Linked DNA regions of Homo sapiens: region 2 is linked to region 1. A link means that fine-mapping ties the variant in region 1 to the expression of a gene that starts in the linked region. Tissue or cell type: monocytes after R848. Region 1 holds a variant in brackets; the other region holds the start of a gene. All regions are shown on one strand. Distances are between the middles of the regions.

Evidence for each region. PIP is the estimated chance that this variant, and not a neighbour inherited with it, causes the effect.
Region 2: CSNK1G1 starts here. The variant in region 1 is fine-mapped to the expression of CSNK1G1 in monocytes after R848 (Quach 2016, PIP 0.92).

The regions. Positions count from the first base shown.
Region 1 is chr15:64,150,406-64,158,636 of GRCh38, reverse strand. SNX22 (sorting nexin 22) reads right to left here and starts at 6,906. Exons shown (of 7, transcript NM_024798.3): 1 at 6,787-6,906; 2 at 6,311-6,394; 3 at 5,895-5,999; 4 at 5,298-5,392; 5 at 4,953-4,985; 6 at 4,635-4,702; 7 at 1,156-4,250. The coding sequence starts at 6,861. The coding sequence ends at 4,129. It overlaps PPIB (peptidylprolyl isomerase B), which reads left to right. Exons shown (of 5, transcript NM_000942.5): 4 at 1,728-1,912; 5 at 2,492-2,820. The coding sequence ends at 2,614. RefSeq lists enhancers at 4,191-4,350, 4,361-4,480, 4,226-4,957, 4,981-5,210, 8,138-8,231 and silencers at 6,201-6,580, 6,781-7,220. The variant C/T (reference allele first, on the strand shown) is at 3,871.
Region 2 is chr15:64,352,305-64,360,304 of GRCh38, reverse strand. CSNK1G1 (casein kinase 1 gamma 1) reads left to right here and starts at 4,132. Exons shown (of 12, transcript NM_022048.5): 1 at 4,132-4,317. RefSeq lists silencers at 4,197-4,246, 4,357-4,416, 4,807-4,866.

The sequences.
Region 1 (8,231 bases):
GGCCTGCAGGGAGTCAGGGCCACAGAGCTGAGTAAGAGGATGACCCCTCACTTGGGGTGCCAGGGGAGTCATGTGGTGGCAGATCCAGGATGTGGAGGCTAGGGCAGGCAGGCTGCTGGGGGCATTGGTGCCACTGACCCTGGGCAGGGAGATTTGGACCTGATCCTGAGGTGGCTGAGAGCAGAGATTCGAGAGCAGACCACCTTGGTCTGAACTCTAGCCCCGCTGTTGCTCTGCTGGGGCTCCTTTTATTCTCTGTGCCTCAGTTTCTTCATCTTTGAAGTGGAGTTAGCTCCTCCTCATAGAGTGGATTGTTAAATATGTAAGATGCTTGGAACAGTCTCTGGCTCACACTATGAGCACCCTAAGCACTCGCCTACTGCAGCGGTGGTGGTGGGAATGGAAAGAAAGAGTAAGTACATGGGGAGTGGGTAGGGACAACCTGAGCCACGTGCAGAGGAAAAGGGGTCAAAAGAATAACTGAGGTCTGGAGAGAAAGATGACAAGGTATGTTGAGTTTAAATAGAAATGTCCATTTGAGTTTGGAACCCCTGTATCTTGAGAGAGTGGCTGGAGCTAAGGATGGAGATTTGGGGGTTTTCTGGATAACAACTATAATCAAAATCCCACAGTTGGCTCAAATGGGGGAGGCTTTTAGCCAGCACTCCAGCCAGGTCTCACTGCACATGTGGCAGAGTCCAGTCTCCCCAGCGTGGGGGTGAGAGGTGGAGCACAGGCAGAAGCACCCTGTCCCCACCAGCCAGAGTCTGGTCATTCTTGGTTTTCAGTCATCCTACCTGCTGCCCAATCAGAAACATCTTCCTGGTTGGCATCTGTCTAGGACAGTTTCCCAGCTCAGTTCCATTCTGTGGAACCACAGGATGAAGGTAGGTGCAGTGAGAAGGAAAAAAGAGTTTTGCATGCAAATATGTTTGAAAGGTGTTAGATAAAACAAAATGAAAATGACCCCATTTTTGGCTGAGTTTCTTGGGGCCTCATGCACAGTGTCAGTCTCCAAGGGGTGATAGGGAAAAAGAAGGGTTTCGGTGTTCCTCGTGGAAGCAGCTTTGGAACTAGGATCTCTGAAATGGCATAGAGATCACTCCGGATTGCCCTTACCATATCCCCAAGCCCCACGTGGACAGACGCGTCACACACACTCACAGCTGTCTTTTATTCCTGTTCATTCCTTGTTAAGAGGCTTTGACTCTCCAGAATCCAAGGGGCAGCCCCTCTTTTCTGCCCCTCCCCACACATCTCTGGCTGCTTTCTCCTCTGCAGCTATGCCTGTGTCTTTTGTGCTCATAGGAAAACAGGCTGGTCAGCCACAGCAGTCCTCCTTTTCTGGAGAGTTCCGACCCTGTTGACTCCCCTGCATCCTGCACGGCACTTCCCTCCACCAAAGTCCCTCCGTGGCAGGCCTGGGCCATAGCTAAGGGGAGCTGATAACATGCGCCTTATTTAAAAGCCACAAAACTATCTTCTCAAAGTAATCCTTCTGTGAGCTGTTCACCACATCAGCCTGGCCTGATGCCCCACTTGGCCTCAGTCAGCATGGCTTGGCTCTGAGGCCAGAAGATAGGAAGGACGCTGCTTTTATGTCCTTGTAGTCCACTCCAGCCTAGCCTGGCACAGAGGACAGGTTAAGCCCCCTCAGTCCTGGCCCCGAATGTCTGCTTGGTTTGGCGCAATCCAGCGCCCCTGACCTGCTCTGTCTTTTTTCCCAGGAAAGAGCATCTACGGTGAGCGCTTCCCCGATGAGAACTTCAAACTGAAGCACTACGGGCCTGGCTGGGTGAGCATGGCCAACGCAGGCAAAGACACCAACGGCTCCCAGTTCTTCATCACGACAGTCAAGACAGCCTGGCTAGATGGCAAGCATGTGGTGTTTGGCAAAGTTCTAGAGGGCATGGTGAGTTGTGGAAGCAAGGGCTACTACTGGGCAATCCTCACCGGGGATTCAACACAGACCCCAGGGCAGGAGCTCCATGTGTCCATCCCTTTCCCAAAAGGACCCAACCCACAGATGCAGCCCAGTGCTCCTGTCCAGAATAAACCCTGTACCTCCATGCCTCCAAGGTTCTAAATTCTTCCAGCCCCCTCAGAGCCCAGCCAGGAAGGCTGCACAACTGCCAGAGCCTCCCTCCCCTCCTTCACTCAGTGACGTGCTGGTCCCACCCCTGAGGTATACAGAGTGCAGCTGAACGCAATGTCCCTGAGAAGCCACATGCCCTGGTCACCCTCTTCCTCCTCCTCACCCTTGGCCCAACCTGGGTCTTACTTCAAAGGAACAAAATTCCTGTACCCCCTCGTCAAATCTGCATTCTCCCTGCTCTGGCCAGGAGTCTGTTAGAATTTTGGTGCCTCCAGTTTTGTGTGCTGTTGATCACTTGTGGGTCTTAGCCCTCCTGAGCCATACGCTGGGGCCTTTCTCCTGAGCGGTGGACCTCCTGATCCACCATGCCCTCCTGCTTCCACCTTTCTTTTCCAGGAGGTGGTGCGGAAGGTGGAGAGCACCAAGACAGACAGCCGGGATAAACCCCTGAAGGATGTGATCATCGCAGACTGCGGCAAGATCGAGGTGGAGAAGCCCTTTGCCATCGCCAAGGAGTAGGGCACAGGGACATCTTTCTTTGAGTGACCGTCTGTGCAGGCCCTGTAGTCCGCCACAGGGCTCTGAGCTGCACTGGCCCCGGTGCTGGCATCTGGTGGAGCGGACCCACTCCCCTCACATTCCACAGGCCCATGGACTCACTTTTGTAACAAACTCCTACCAACACTGACCAATAAAAAAAAATGTGGGTTTTTTTTTTTTTAATATATAATGTGTGGGCCTGGTTCTTGAGCCTGCAGCACCTCCCCTAGGCCTACATCCCAACATGCCTGCAACTCTCCTGTGGCAATGGGTGCCTGCCCCTTCCCTGGGATCCTGCCTGAAATTTTGACCCAGGAGCTACCCAGGAAAAGTCAGGCAGGAGCTTTTGCCCCCTGCTTCTAAACTTTGCCAGCTACTGGGCCTCCACATTTGCTCCCCTTGCCACCACCCTCCAGTCTATGTTAAGGGATGTATCTGTACTTTTTCATAGCCTACCTCTAAATTGATTTTTTTTTTTTTTTTTTTTTTTTGGTAGAGACAGGTCTCACTATGTTGCGCTGGCTGGTCTCAAACTTCCAGACCCAAGCATCCTCCTGCCTTGGCCTCCTAAAGTATTGGGATTACAGGCATGAGCCTCTGCACCCAGCTGACTTCTTCCTTTATTATTTATTTATTTTGAGACGGAGTTTCACTCTTGTTGCCCAGGCTGGAGTGCAGTGGCGCGATCTCGGCTCACCACAACTTCCGCCTCCTGGCTTCAAGAGATTCTCCTGCCTTGGGCCGAGCACGGTGGCTCACGCCCGTAATCCCAGCACTTTGGGAAGCCGAGGCGGGTGGATCACCTGACGTCAGGAGTACAAGACCAGCCTGGCCAACGTGGTGAAACCCATCTCTATTAAAAATACAAAAATTAGCCGGGCATGGTGGCGGATGCCTGTAATCCCAGCTACTCGAGAGGCTGAGGCAGGAGAATTGCTTGAACCCGGGAAGCGGGGGTTGCCGTGAGCCGAGATCGTGCCATTGCATTCCAGCCTGGGCAACAAGAGTGAAACTCCGTCTCAAAAAAAAAAAAAAAAAAAAAAAAGAGATTCTCCTACCTCAGCTTCCCGAGTAGCTGGGATTACAGGCATGCACCACCACAATGCCCGGCTAATTTTGTATTTTTAGTAGAGACGGGGTTTCTCCATGGTGGTCAGGCTGGTCTCGAACTCCTGACTTCAGGTGATCCACCCATCTTGGCCTCCCAAAGTGCTGGGATTACAGGCATGAGCCAC[C/T]GCGCCTGGCTGACTTCCTCTTTTATTACTTATCTTCTTGACCCTGCCTTGGCTGTTGGGCTCTAAGAGCATACAAATTCTACCACCTCCAGCTACCAATGCGAGCCAAGTTCTGAGCCTTGAGTGGGAATGTGGCACAACTGGGCACTGGGTAATTAAGTCCTGGGTCCAGGCCAAAGGAGGACCCAGCCTTATATGGAGTTCATAGGACAGAGGCACATGACTTTCTTAGGAGGCAGCCAAAGGCCTCTGGACTGATCAGGGCATCGGTGGCAGAGGAGCAGGGTGACAGGCCGCCTTTGGCTGGGCTTTATCTGGGCTGATGCTGAAGCTGTAGAGGCCCTGGAGCACACCATTCACCACCACGTTGGGCAGCGACTCTGTGGGATAGAATTAAACAGGTCTGGCCTCAGACCTGCAGCTCCTTGAGCTCCTGCTCATGGGCTCAGCCCCCACTTGGGAGTAGGAGCCCCTGCCAAGGCAGCAGACAGCAGCTGTCCACCCCAAATGAAGCCTCCGCATTCCCAGGTCACATTCTTTTCACATCAGCTTGGTAAAGAAGTCAGGCTGCTGAAGAAATGGAGACCAGGGAAGCCAAACTTGTTTTCCTTGTGTCTACAAAGCAGGCTCCAGGGGACAGGAGCAGGAGGTAGTGGCTCCAGAGGTGGGCAGCAGGAAGGAGATGCTGTCTGAGGGTCCCAGGAGCCGAGAAATGCAAAGCCCACAACCCAGCCCTGTAGCCCCATATCTAGGCACCTCCTCACCTGGGGAGGGGTTGCAAACATAGGGATCCACATGGAAGCTCAGGACAGGCCGCTGGTGCTGCTGGGAGCTGGGAGGAAACAGGGTCATGAACCATGGGTGCGGGAGGCAGGGCAGAATCCCACAGAGGGGTGGAGACGGGGTTGCCATCACCAGGGACCCATGAAGGAAAAGGTGAGTGGGAAATGGGCTCAGGAGGCACCAAAGGGAAAACAGACTTCAGGGCCCAGGCCAGACAGGCCCAGGCAGCAGGCCTGCCTCCTAGCATATGGCCACTAGGGGGCAGCAGGGGCCAAGCGCGGGCTAGGGCTTTGACTTGCCTGCTGTCGCCAGGCAGGAACTCCCTCAGGGTGCTGAAGAGAAGAGAAACACTGTAAGCTGCCTGGGGATGCCGGGGGAGCGTGAGGAAGGGGTGGAGACACCAGAGCCCAGAACTGCACCTCCCAGGGGACCACTGCTTCTATTTGTAACAAGCCCCAGTTCCGGAGGTGGCGGGGGTAACCAAGTCTGTCCAAAAAAAAGCCCCTCCACCCAGGTCAAGAGAGCTGGTGAGGGCGGTCATGCTGGATCCTGGCAGATGTGAAAAGAAAGGGCTTGCCCTCCAACACCTTTCCTCACCTGCTCACTGCTGACAGCCCCTGGCCCCCGCCATCGGCCCCCCTTACCCCCAGTTGCTAGCCTTGGGGTCTGTGGGGAAGTGCCGAAGTCTCAGGAATTCCAGTAACTCCTTGGGCACCTCCTGGTTCAGGTACAGGATGCCCTGGAGAGGACAGAGGAGACCTGCAATCAGACCCAGCTACTAATTTGCATAGCGCAGTGCCAGTGAAAATGCAGGGCTCTTTGTTCCAAAAAAAGAATTTCACGACAATGACAGCAGAGCGTTGAACCAGGCTCAGGGCCCTTCTGGGCGCTGGGCGCTGTGTGCACAGGTTGTACCCCATGACGCGGCATAGCTTTGCTGTTGGGGGAAGGACCCTCACCCTACATGCCATCAGGAGGGCAGCACAGGACCTCACCATGGAGGGGACAGGACCTGGGTTTCATGGAGCTGGGACTACCTGTGTCCGTTACCTCTTTCAGTCCTTTCAACAAGCCAGAGGGGGGTGTTTGGACCTATATTAGACTCAGAAAATTGATGCTTGAGGTGGTGAATAACATCCCCAAGTTGTGGGTTCCCTCCCTGCCATGCCCCCACACCTCTCTGTCTGGGCCACACCCCTGGCACAGAAGGCCGGGGGGCAACCAACTGTGCTCTCGCATACCTGGATGTAAGCCTCCAAGCCCTGCCGGCGCTGTTCCAACCCTCTGGTCCTCCAGTTGGGCAGGCGTTTCGAGGGGAAGTCGGGCACTTTGTACAGCTTCTTGATCTACTGGAGGTTTACCGCGTGCGATCACAGCATCCCGACTGAGCCCTCAAGCCCTCTTCGCCCCAGCCAGAAGCCCTCCCGCGCCCCCGCCTTCGGGCTCTACTGGGACAGACCCTGGTGAGTGGTGGACCGGCCGAGGGCGAGGAAGGCCCCAACCCACCCACAGAGGCCCGGGGGCTGACCGGCTGCGCAGGGACTGAGGCAGTAATGGGGGTGGCGGAGGCTGGGGCTCGCCCGCCCGCCTCACAGGGCCTGGGCGGGGGCTGGACAGAGGCTGGGCCGGGGCCGGTGGGAGGTCGGCGCCGCCTCACCCGCTTGTGCAGCGCGTGGAACTCGCTGTAGCGCCTTGGCACCGTGTGTCTGCGCCCGCTGCACAGCACCTCCACTCGGAACACCTGGCGGCGCGGGCGGGCAGCGGGTCTGCGCGTGAGGCCCCGCGGGAGGACGCCGCAGCACCTGCGCCTGGCGACGTGCCCACCCTCCCGCTCTCAAAGGCACAAAGCGGCCTTGCGGCGCCGCGGCTGCCCGGGGACTCTCCGCTCCCGCACACCTGGGAGAACCGGCTGGCGGACCTGCCCCTCGGAGCCCTGGGGTCCCTCAAGAGCTCGAACCATGGTCCGCGAGGCTGGCAAATCCAAGCGGCCCCCAAACCCTCGACAAGGTTTCCCCCGACGGTCCAGCCCGCAGCGCTCGTTCACCCAGGCCCGGGCCCCGGGTCCCCACTGAGCGCAGCGCGGGGAAATCCTGCGGGTCCCGGCGCCCCTCCCCATCCAGGGGCCGCGCTCACCATGTGGCTTTTCTCCGGGCTCTGCCTGGGCCCCTCGGCCTCGGGCCCCACCGACGGGATGTGAACTTCCAGCATCCGCGCCCCGGCCCCAGCTGCTCCGCGCGCTCGGCTCGGAGCCCTAACTCTCCCGGAGCGGACTGAGGACCCCGGGGCGGCCGGCTCCGCCCCCTCGGTCCGCAGGCCCCACCCCAGGCCCCGCCCCCAGGCGACCCCGCCCCGGGCGTTCCCTTGCGCCGCGGGTCCTGAGCCTAGAAGATTAGGCGGGACCTGGACGCCGCCCCCGAAGTCTAGTGCGCCCACAGCGCGGGGCAGTGGAGTCAACCGTTTGTCAAACATTGACGGAGCACTCACTGATGCCAGGAACTGGCGAGCGAAAATGTCACCCAACCTGAGTTAAGCGCCTACCAAGGACGGCCTGTGGCTCCAGGCGCGGACGGAGGCGGGGCCCGGGCCTCAGCGCCGGTCCTGGGGCCAACCAGGGACCTGTCTTGGGTTCCTCAGTCCCTTCCCGAGCCTTTCCCTCCTTTCAGCCTGGTCCCTGAAATTGTGATCTGGATTCCCCGGCTGAGGCCACACCTGAGCAAGGCTTGGACCCAGTCCAGCTTTGATGCCCCTTTCCCCAGCATCCACAGGCCCCCCCATTCATTCATTGTTTTCATCCATCCATTCACTCATATCTTCCAACCCTAAGGGGCTCCAGGCTGTTTGTGGGGAAGAGGCAGTTTAGGGACCTAGACTCCGATTTGGACGTCAGACTGCCTGGATTTCAGGAGCTCCGTAGACCTTTGCTCATCTGCAAAATAGGGATAACGTGGCTCCTTCAGGCAAGTGTATAAAGTGAGATGATTTGGCCGGGCGCGGTGGCTCACGCCTGTAATCCCAGCACTTTGGGAGGCCGAGGTAGGCGGATCACCTGAGGTCAGGAGTTCGAGACCAGCCTGACCAACATGGTGAAACCCCGTACCTACTAAAAATACAAAAATCAACCAGGTGTGGTGGCACATGCCTGTAATCCCAGCTACTCAGGAGGCTGAGGCGGGAGAATCACTTGAACCTGAGAGGCGGAGGTTGCAGTGAGCCGAGATCAAACCATTGCACTCCAGACTGGGCAACAGCAAGACTCTGTCTTAAAAAAAAAAAAAAGTGAGATGATTCATGTTAGGCCCTTAACAGAAGCATTGAGCAGCAGCTTGACTGTGGGCTTCTCCTGGATGACTAGGATAAGTGGGCACAGGGCAGTGGATGGGAAGAGAGACTTTGGGGGGTGGCACCGGGTTGCTCTTGTCCACCCCTCCGGGCAGGTTCTTCCTGGATATGTGGCAGGATTTTGATCCAGAACTCTCTCAGGCCATGTGCTGGAAAGGACCTCTGCTCCCACCTCTCAGCCCTGCACCCTTCAGCTGTCGGAGAGCTGCTATCAGCAGCACCATGGCAGGTCCTCTACT
Region 2 (8,000 bases), 200 kb before region 1:
GTTCATATTAAGTATATGGATTCATGGGCTGGGCGCGGTGGCTCACGCTTGTAATCCCAGCACTTTGGGAGTCTGAGGCGGGCGGATCACGAGGTCAGGAGATCGAGACCATCCTGGCTAACAAGGTGAAACCCCATCTCTACTAAAAATACAAAAAATTAGCCGGGCGTAGTGGTGGGCACCTGTAGTCCCAGCTACTCGGGAGGCTGAGGCAGGAGAATGGCGTGAACCCAGGAGGCGGAGCTTGCAGTGAGCCTACATCGCGCCACTGCACTCCAGCCTGGGCAACAGAGCGAGACTCCGTCTCAAAAAAAAAAAAAAAGAATATGGATTCATGGCCGGGTGTGGTAGTTCACACCTGTAATCCCAGCACTTTGGGAGGCTGAGGCCTCCAAGAGTTCAAGACCAGCCTGGGCAACAGAATGAGACCCCCTTCTCTACAAAAAATACAAAAATTAGCCAGGTGTGGTGGTTCACAGCTATAATCCCGGCACTTTGGGAGGCTGAGGCAAGCGGATTGCTTAAGCTCAGGAGTTCAAGACCAGCCTGGGCAACATAGTGAGATCCCATCTCTACAGAAAATACAAAAATTAGCTGGGTGTGGCTGCACACTGCATGCCTGTAGTGCCAGCTATTTGGGAGGCTGAGGTAGAAGGATCGCTTGAGCCTACGAGGTGAAGGCTGCAGTGAGCCAAGATTGTGCCTGCACTCCAGCCTGGGTGACAGAGTGAGACCCTGTCTAAAAAGAAAAAAAAAAAAGAGAGAGACTATGGATTCCCCACAAAAATTACAAAAGTGTAGTTAAACTCACATACCTAATTTTAGGTGGGGTTTGTACTATCTATCTTTAGAGATCTCAAAGCAATGAGTATGTTGAAAATAATAGAATAGAGGACATGTGATGAATTAGGAGTCAAGCCAGTTATTCATACACCTATACAAAAGTGCCTGGAGTTTTTAAAAAAGCTGTAGGAAGAGAGGATGTAAACAAATGCTGCTTATAAATCATTTTTCTTCAGGCAGTGGGTAAAATGAGTGATGCATAGGAATTTGCATTTCTACATTGGCTTACGCTATCACATTTAATCATAACTTGATTTTCTTAATAAAACATTTCTTTCTATAGAACACATTTATTATTTACCATAATCATGTTTTAATTTTTTGAAACATCCTAGTCTATCATAGTTTTAGATATATTGTTGTTCATTGAGCTCATTTTATTTACTATTTCAAAGTTTTTTGATATTTAAACCTGTTTGGCAATTGAAATACCAAGCTCTGTTTTGTCAGGGTAACATGTTTACCACTTGTCACTTTCAGCCAGGTTTTTTTTTTTTTTCTTGGAGACGGAGTCTTGCTCTGTCTCAGGCTGGAGTGCAATGGCACGATCTTGGCTCACTGCAACCTCAGCCTCCTGGGTTCAAGCGATTCTCCTGCCTCAGCCTCCCGAGTAGCTGGGATTACAGGCATCTGCCACCATGCCCGGCTAATTTTTTTTTTTTTTTTTTGATTTTTGGTAGAGATGGGGTTTCTCCATGTTGGCCAGGCTGGTCTCAAACTTCTGACCTCAGATGACCCACCCTCCTTGGCCTCCCAAAGTGCTGGGGTTACATGTGTGAGCCACTGCATCCCGCCCAGGTTTTTAAAGGAACAATTAGTGGATGAGCTGAAATTCCATTTGAATTGTGCATGTGTATATACTCCCACATGTATTCATGTCAATGGCAGAGGTGGAGATGTATTAAACATCCTATTGACCCATTTGAGTTTGAAGTGATTTCCTAAAGGTTTTGCTGAAGTGATTGCCTATGGTGAATCAATTTAACCCTGTCTCATGCATACAGGAAACCAATAGACGTGGTGTTTCGTTTAAGTGACCAAAGCTCATTTCCTCTCTGCCCCAGTTAAGGTGGATAACAGTTCAATTTTGGTGTCTATAAAGAGGTTATCATGACCAATAAAATTAGAGCCTGCCGTGGCAAGTATATTCACTGCCATGGAATAGAAAACAAATTTAGGAGCTACTGTTAAGCATTCTGCTTGTAAGAAGACCTATTTAAGATAGGAAAACCAAATGAAGATTTTTACTCATTTTTCTCTGAATGCCCAACTGCATTTCTCTGAATATTTTACCTGCCATAACGATATGGGTTCTTTTCCTTTTTTTTTTTTTTTTCTTTTTTCTGAAACGGAGTCTCGCTCTGTTGCCCAGGCTGGAGTGCAATGGCGCAATCTCGGCTCACTGCAACGTCTGCCTTCTGGGTTCAAATGATTCTCATGCCTCAGCCTCCCGAGTAGGTGGGATCACAGGTGCCCACCACCACGCCCAGCTAATTTTTCTATTTTTAATAGAGACAGGGTTTCACCAGTTTGGCCAGGCTGGTCTCGAACTCCTTACCTCAGGTGATCCTCAGGCCTCGGCTTCCCAAAGTGCTGAGATTACAGGCGTGAGCCACCGCACCCAGCCTCCAGATACGAGTTGTTTTTTTCGAGTATTACTTTGTTAACTTTTACCCCAACCATTCATTTTCCCAATATTTTCAAACCCCAAATCACCCAGACACAATAAATGAGGTCTCTTTTCTTATCCATAGTGTCGGTATGAAAGTTTATTTTGAAGGTTTTTTTTTTTTTTTTTAGACGGAGTCTAGCTCTGTCTCCATGCTGCAGGGCAGTGGCGCGGTCTCGGCTCACTGCAACCTCCGCCTCCCGGGTTCCCGCGATTCTCCTGCCTCAGTCTCCCGAGTAGCTGGGACTACAGGCACACGCCACCACGCCCAGCTAATTTTTGTTTGTTTGTTTATTTATTTATTATTATTTTTGAGACGGAGTCTCGCTCTGTCATCAGGCTGGAGTGCCATTGGAGTGCAATGGCACGATCTCGGCTCACTGCAATCTCCGCCTCCCGGGTTCAAGCAATTCCCCTGCTTCAGCCTCCCGTGTAACTGGGACTACAGGCACGTGCCACCACCCCCAGCCAATTTTTTGTATTTTAGTAGAGACGGGGTTTCACCATGTTGGCCAGGATGGTCTCCATCTCCTGACCTCGTGATCTGCCCGCCTCGGCCTCCCAAAGTGCTTACAGGAGGACTACAGGCGCGAGCCACCGCGCCCGGCCAATTTTTGTATTTTTAGTAGAGACGGAGTTTCACCATGTTGGCCAGGATGGTCTCCATCTCCTGACCTCGTGATCCGCCAGTCTCGGCTTCCCAAAGTGTTGGGATTACAGGTGTGAGCCACCGCACCCGGCATATTTTGAGTTTTGAGTGGAGGATTAGACAGTCTTCTTCCTTCCCAAATTTGATTATGGGCTCCCTTTAGCCTTTTTCTTTGTTTTCTGTCTTTTTTCCACCACCACCCCGCCCCCGAGGCGCAGTCTCAAGAGGTCCTGAGAACATGTGCCCTGCTCTCTGTTTTAAGGATTAAAATAACTGTCGAGTTACATTGAATCTTTTTTGCCTATTCCATTTGGCTAGGTTAATTCCAGACCTTACACAAACATGTGCAGCTCTTACAAAATGTAGGTGAAGACAACATTTTTCTAACCATTCGGCTTCATGGGCTGTCACAGGAGAACTAAGTGCATGAAAAACCTTTCACAACATTGAAAGAAATTTTAAAAATCTGGTTGAAACACAATTAAAAATCCACAAGAGGGAGATGCTTGCTAAACCGTCAGAAAATAATTCCCTCGAGGGACCTGAGAGAGGAGCCTGGAGCCTTAGGAACAGCCACTGGGTCAGCCACGGGATTAAGGGTGGGAGGGAGCAGGAGTATATAGAGACGGGGGCTTGGTGGAGGAGTACAGTTGAAGGGAAAAGCGGGATGGGTTTCGTGCCTCTGGCAGCGAAGCGTGTACTTGGTCTAAGATCTTGAGCAGAAGGTAAGAGCGTGTTGCCAAAGCAGAGCTCAGTGCTCCCGATATATCTTCTGGTAGTCCCAGAAGAAATGGGGGTGGGTTGCTTTGAAGGCACTTCCGCTTAGCAACCCCACGCGGTTGCTAAGGAGGGGGCAGCCGTGGGGATAACCCGGAAGTGATGGTGTCAGTTTAACGCTGCCTGCCCAAAGTTTGTCCTATTAGGCCCGCCAGGGTACTCTGCGACTCCGGGACGAGGGCGGGGCCGCGCTAGTGGTTCCGGTTCGGCTCCAGCCGCCCCTCGGCTCCTCGCCTTCCCCCTCCCGTCCGCCTTCTCCCCTCCCTCCCGCTCCTGGGAAAGAGAGAAACCACCGCTGCGGGTGGGTAGAGAAGCACTTGGCGCCTCGGGGAGGGGACCGCGCCCGCCTCATTTGCGCCTTGCAGCACTGCTGGACCAGGTATCTGCCCGGCTTCGTCGGGGTTCTGTAGGCTGAAGTCTGAGGGGGTGTGTGTGTGTCTGAGGGGGTTGGTGGGGGGCCCTTTCCTGGGCGTGGGTGGGGGACGCCGTGATCCCGGGTGGGGCGCAGGCTGGCGTTTGTGTCTGTGGAGGGTTGCGGGGGCGGAATGGAGGGGCTGAGGGACACAGCGGGTGGAGAGTTTCGGTTAGCGGGGTAGAGGTAGGCGGAGGAGGCGCCCCTTCCGAGAAACTGACTCTAGCCGGTGTGGACCGGGAGTTTGCCACCTGGAGGGCTTACTCTGAAAGGGGGAGCATCCCCCGGGAGCCAAAAGGAGGGCACAGATCTCGTCAGGGTGACTGGGGCTATCCCGTGCTTCCATTGCCCTCTTTCCCTACCCACCCCGCTGGGACAGAGCTGGACTTCGAAGGTTGTGGGGGTTCTGAGTCGACTGGGTACCGCGGGGAGCCGCCCTTGGCGGAGCTTAGGGCACAAGAGTGGGTAATGAGACTTTCCTCTACCCAACTTCCGTACGCTTCCCCCACTTCTTCCTTTACTGTTTCCTCGCCCCCACGTCCTACAGGAGCAATGTCCCCCAAGTGGGCAGGCATCACAATGTAAAAGAGAGTGGAACTGGGTTTGTTGCCCCTAAATGACACTTAAGATGTTTGGAAAGTGCCTGAATGACATATTCAACCAAGTCTCCCAGCTCGATATTAATTCCGGTATAAATTACCTTAGAAAAGTGGAATTCTGAAAAGCATTTAACAATAGGCTAGTCCAGGTGTAGTCTTGTGTAGTAGATGTACGTGTTTATTTAAAAAGAATGGACTGGGGAAACCATATAGATGTATCACAGGTCTAGGCAAGACATGTTGAGGCAAGGCTTTTGCAGCCTCTTTCTTACCTGCCAGTAAACCTGTCCTAATTTAAATGAAGTAGAAAGATCCTCTTCATTTTTGTTTCAATCAGTGACTGAATACTAGGTGCTGTGTAGTGATGTCTCAGAACAGATATGTGAATTTTCAGAGAGAGAATGAATGTTCTGCTGTTGAGCCTGTGTCTTAATCTTTTAAGGAGATAATTGCGGTCAAGTGGAAGTATTGACTTTCAGGCAGATAAATCTTGGGTTGAACCTAGACTATGCCAGTTGCTAGTTACTGACCTTGGGCAAGTCATGGAACCTACCAGAGCTTTTGTTTCTTCATAAGTAGTATGAGTTAAAATTCTTACCTGTATTATAAGTAACATCCCATTTTAAACGGAACCACCTTTGAATTAGAAGATAAATTATTACCATTAATCATACACAGTCAAGGCAGCCCAGTTTTGTGAAACGAGGTTTGAGATAGGAAAGCAACCGGATAATTTTGAAAAAAAAATGCATACAATAGGACTTTCAGTGTCTTCTCGAAATTGATCGTAGGTAGCATGAAATTCAGTTATCAGTAGTTTCTTAAAATTCAAAATAATAAAGTAGAATATGGCCCATTTATTGAAATGAGCAAAATATATTTTATAGATTTTTCTCAGCTACACCATATTGGTGTTTATAGTATGGATTAACACGAAATACATGAAAAAGTAATGTATGTAAATCTTAACATCACATGTCTCTTTAAAGAGAATTAAAATTGGGGTGTAAAATAGAAGGTACTTGTTTTTTGTTTGTTTGTTTGTTTGTTTGAGACAGAGTCTTGCTCTATCACCCAGGCTGGAGTGCAGTGGCACGATCTCGGCTCAGTGCAACCTCTACCTCCAGGATTCAAGCGATTCTCCTGCCTCAGCCTCCTGAGTAGCTGGGATCACAGGCGCCTGCCACTACACCCAGCTAATTTTTTGTATTTTTAGTAGAGAGAGGGTTTTACCATGTTGGTCAGGTTGGTCTTGAACTCCTGACCTTGTAATCCATCCGCCTTGGTCTCCCAAAGTGCTGGGATTACAGGTGTGAGCCACCGTGCCCGGCCTACTTGTAATTTTAAGATAAAAATCAGCAGCATCAGCAGCACCTCTCATCTCAGTTAGATTTATGCTACTAGAAAAACTTATATAATATTCAGAAAACAAAATCGAATACATTTCTGCCTTTAAATCATTCCTTATTACGATATAGAAATAAATCCAAGAAACATGAAGTCTGTTTTTTATTTATTTTTAGTGACAAGGTCTTTCTCTGTCACTTAGGCCAGAATGAATGCACTGGGGCAATTATACTCACTGCAGCCTCAAACTCCTGGGTTCAAGCAAACCTCCTGCGTCGCCCTCCCAAAGTGTTGAGATTACAGGTGTGAGCCACCTCACCCAGCCCATGAAGTCTTTTTCTTTCTTTTTTTTTTTTTTTTTTGAAATGGAGTCTCACTCTGTCACCCAGGCTGGAGTGTGGTGGCACGATCTCGGCTCACTGAAACCTCCACCTCCCAGGTTCAAGCAATTCTCCTGCCTCAGCCTCCTGAGTAGCTGGGATTACAGGCACATGCCACCACATCCAGCTAATTTTTTTGTATTTTTAGTAGAGACGAAGTGTCATCATGTTAGCCAGGATGGTGTCTATCTCCTGACCTCGTGATCCACCCGCCTCAGCCTCCCAAAGTGCTGGGATTACAGGCATGAGCCACCGTACCCGGCCAAAGTCTTTATACTCATTTGTTTTGTGGATTTAAAATAATATAGTTATGTGTCACCTATTATATGTCAGATTTTCAGCTAACGTAGTTTGCTTTTTGAGGTGACTTATAGTTAGTTATTTTCAAATGTAATTTATACTCAGAGGACAAAAATCAAATAACTTCCTGTAATAATAGATGTTTGTGAGAATACAAAGTTTGCAATTCAGTTTGACCTTTTTTGAGAAGTTCATAAGTTTTGTGTAAATTTGTGAGAAATTTTCTTTTCTTTTTTTTTAAAGACAGATTCTTGCTCTGTCACCTAGGCTGGAGTGCAGCAGCATAATCTCTGCTCATTGCAATCTCCGCCTGCTAAGTTCAAGCAGTTCTCGCACCTCAGCTTCCTGAGTAGCTGGAACTACAGGCGTGTGCCACCATGTCCAGCTAATTTTTGTGTTTTTAGTAGAGAAGGCGTTTTGCCATGTTGGCCAGGCAGGTCTCGAACTCCTGACCTCAAGTGATCCGCCAGCTTTGGCCTCCCAAAGTGCTGGGATTACAGGCATGAGCCAACACACCCAGCCCTGAGAAATTTTCAAATATATTTCTTCCCCATGTCTCTTTGTTTTATAAAGAGTTGAAATTAGGCCAGGCATGGTGGCTCATGCCTGTAATCCTAGCACCTTGGGAGGCCGAGGTGGGCGGATCACCTGAGGTCAGGAGTTTGAGACCAGCCTGAGCAACATGGAGAAACCCCATCTCTACTAAAAATACAACATTAGTCAGGCATGATGGAGCATGCCTGTAATCCCAGCTACTCGGGAGGCTGAGGCAAGAGAATCGCTTGAACCCGGGAGGTGGAGGTTGCGGTGAGCCAAGATTGTGCCATTCACTCCAGCCTGGGCAAGAGCAAAACTCCATCTCAAAAAAAAAAAAAAAAAAAGAAGAATTCAAATTATGTTTTGTGATAGTTACAGAGTTTTGGTAAGGTTATTTAGCTTTCTAAATGGCTCTTCTGAGAGTGTAAGGTCTGTATATATCTAAGCTTTCTGCTGTGTTTTCTTTTATCTTTTCACTTTTTTTTTG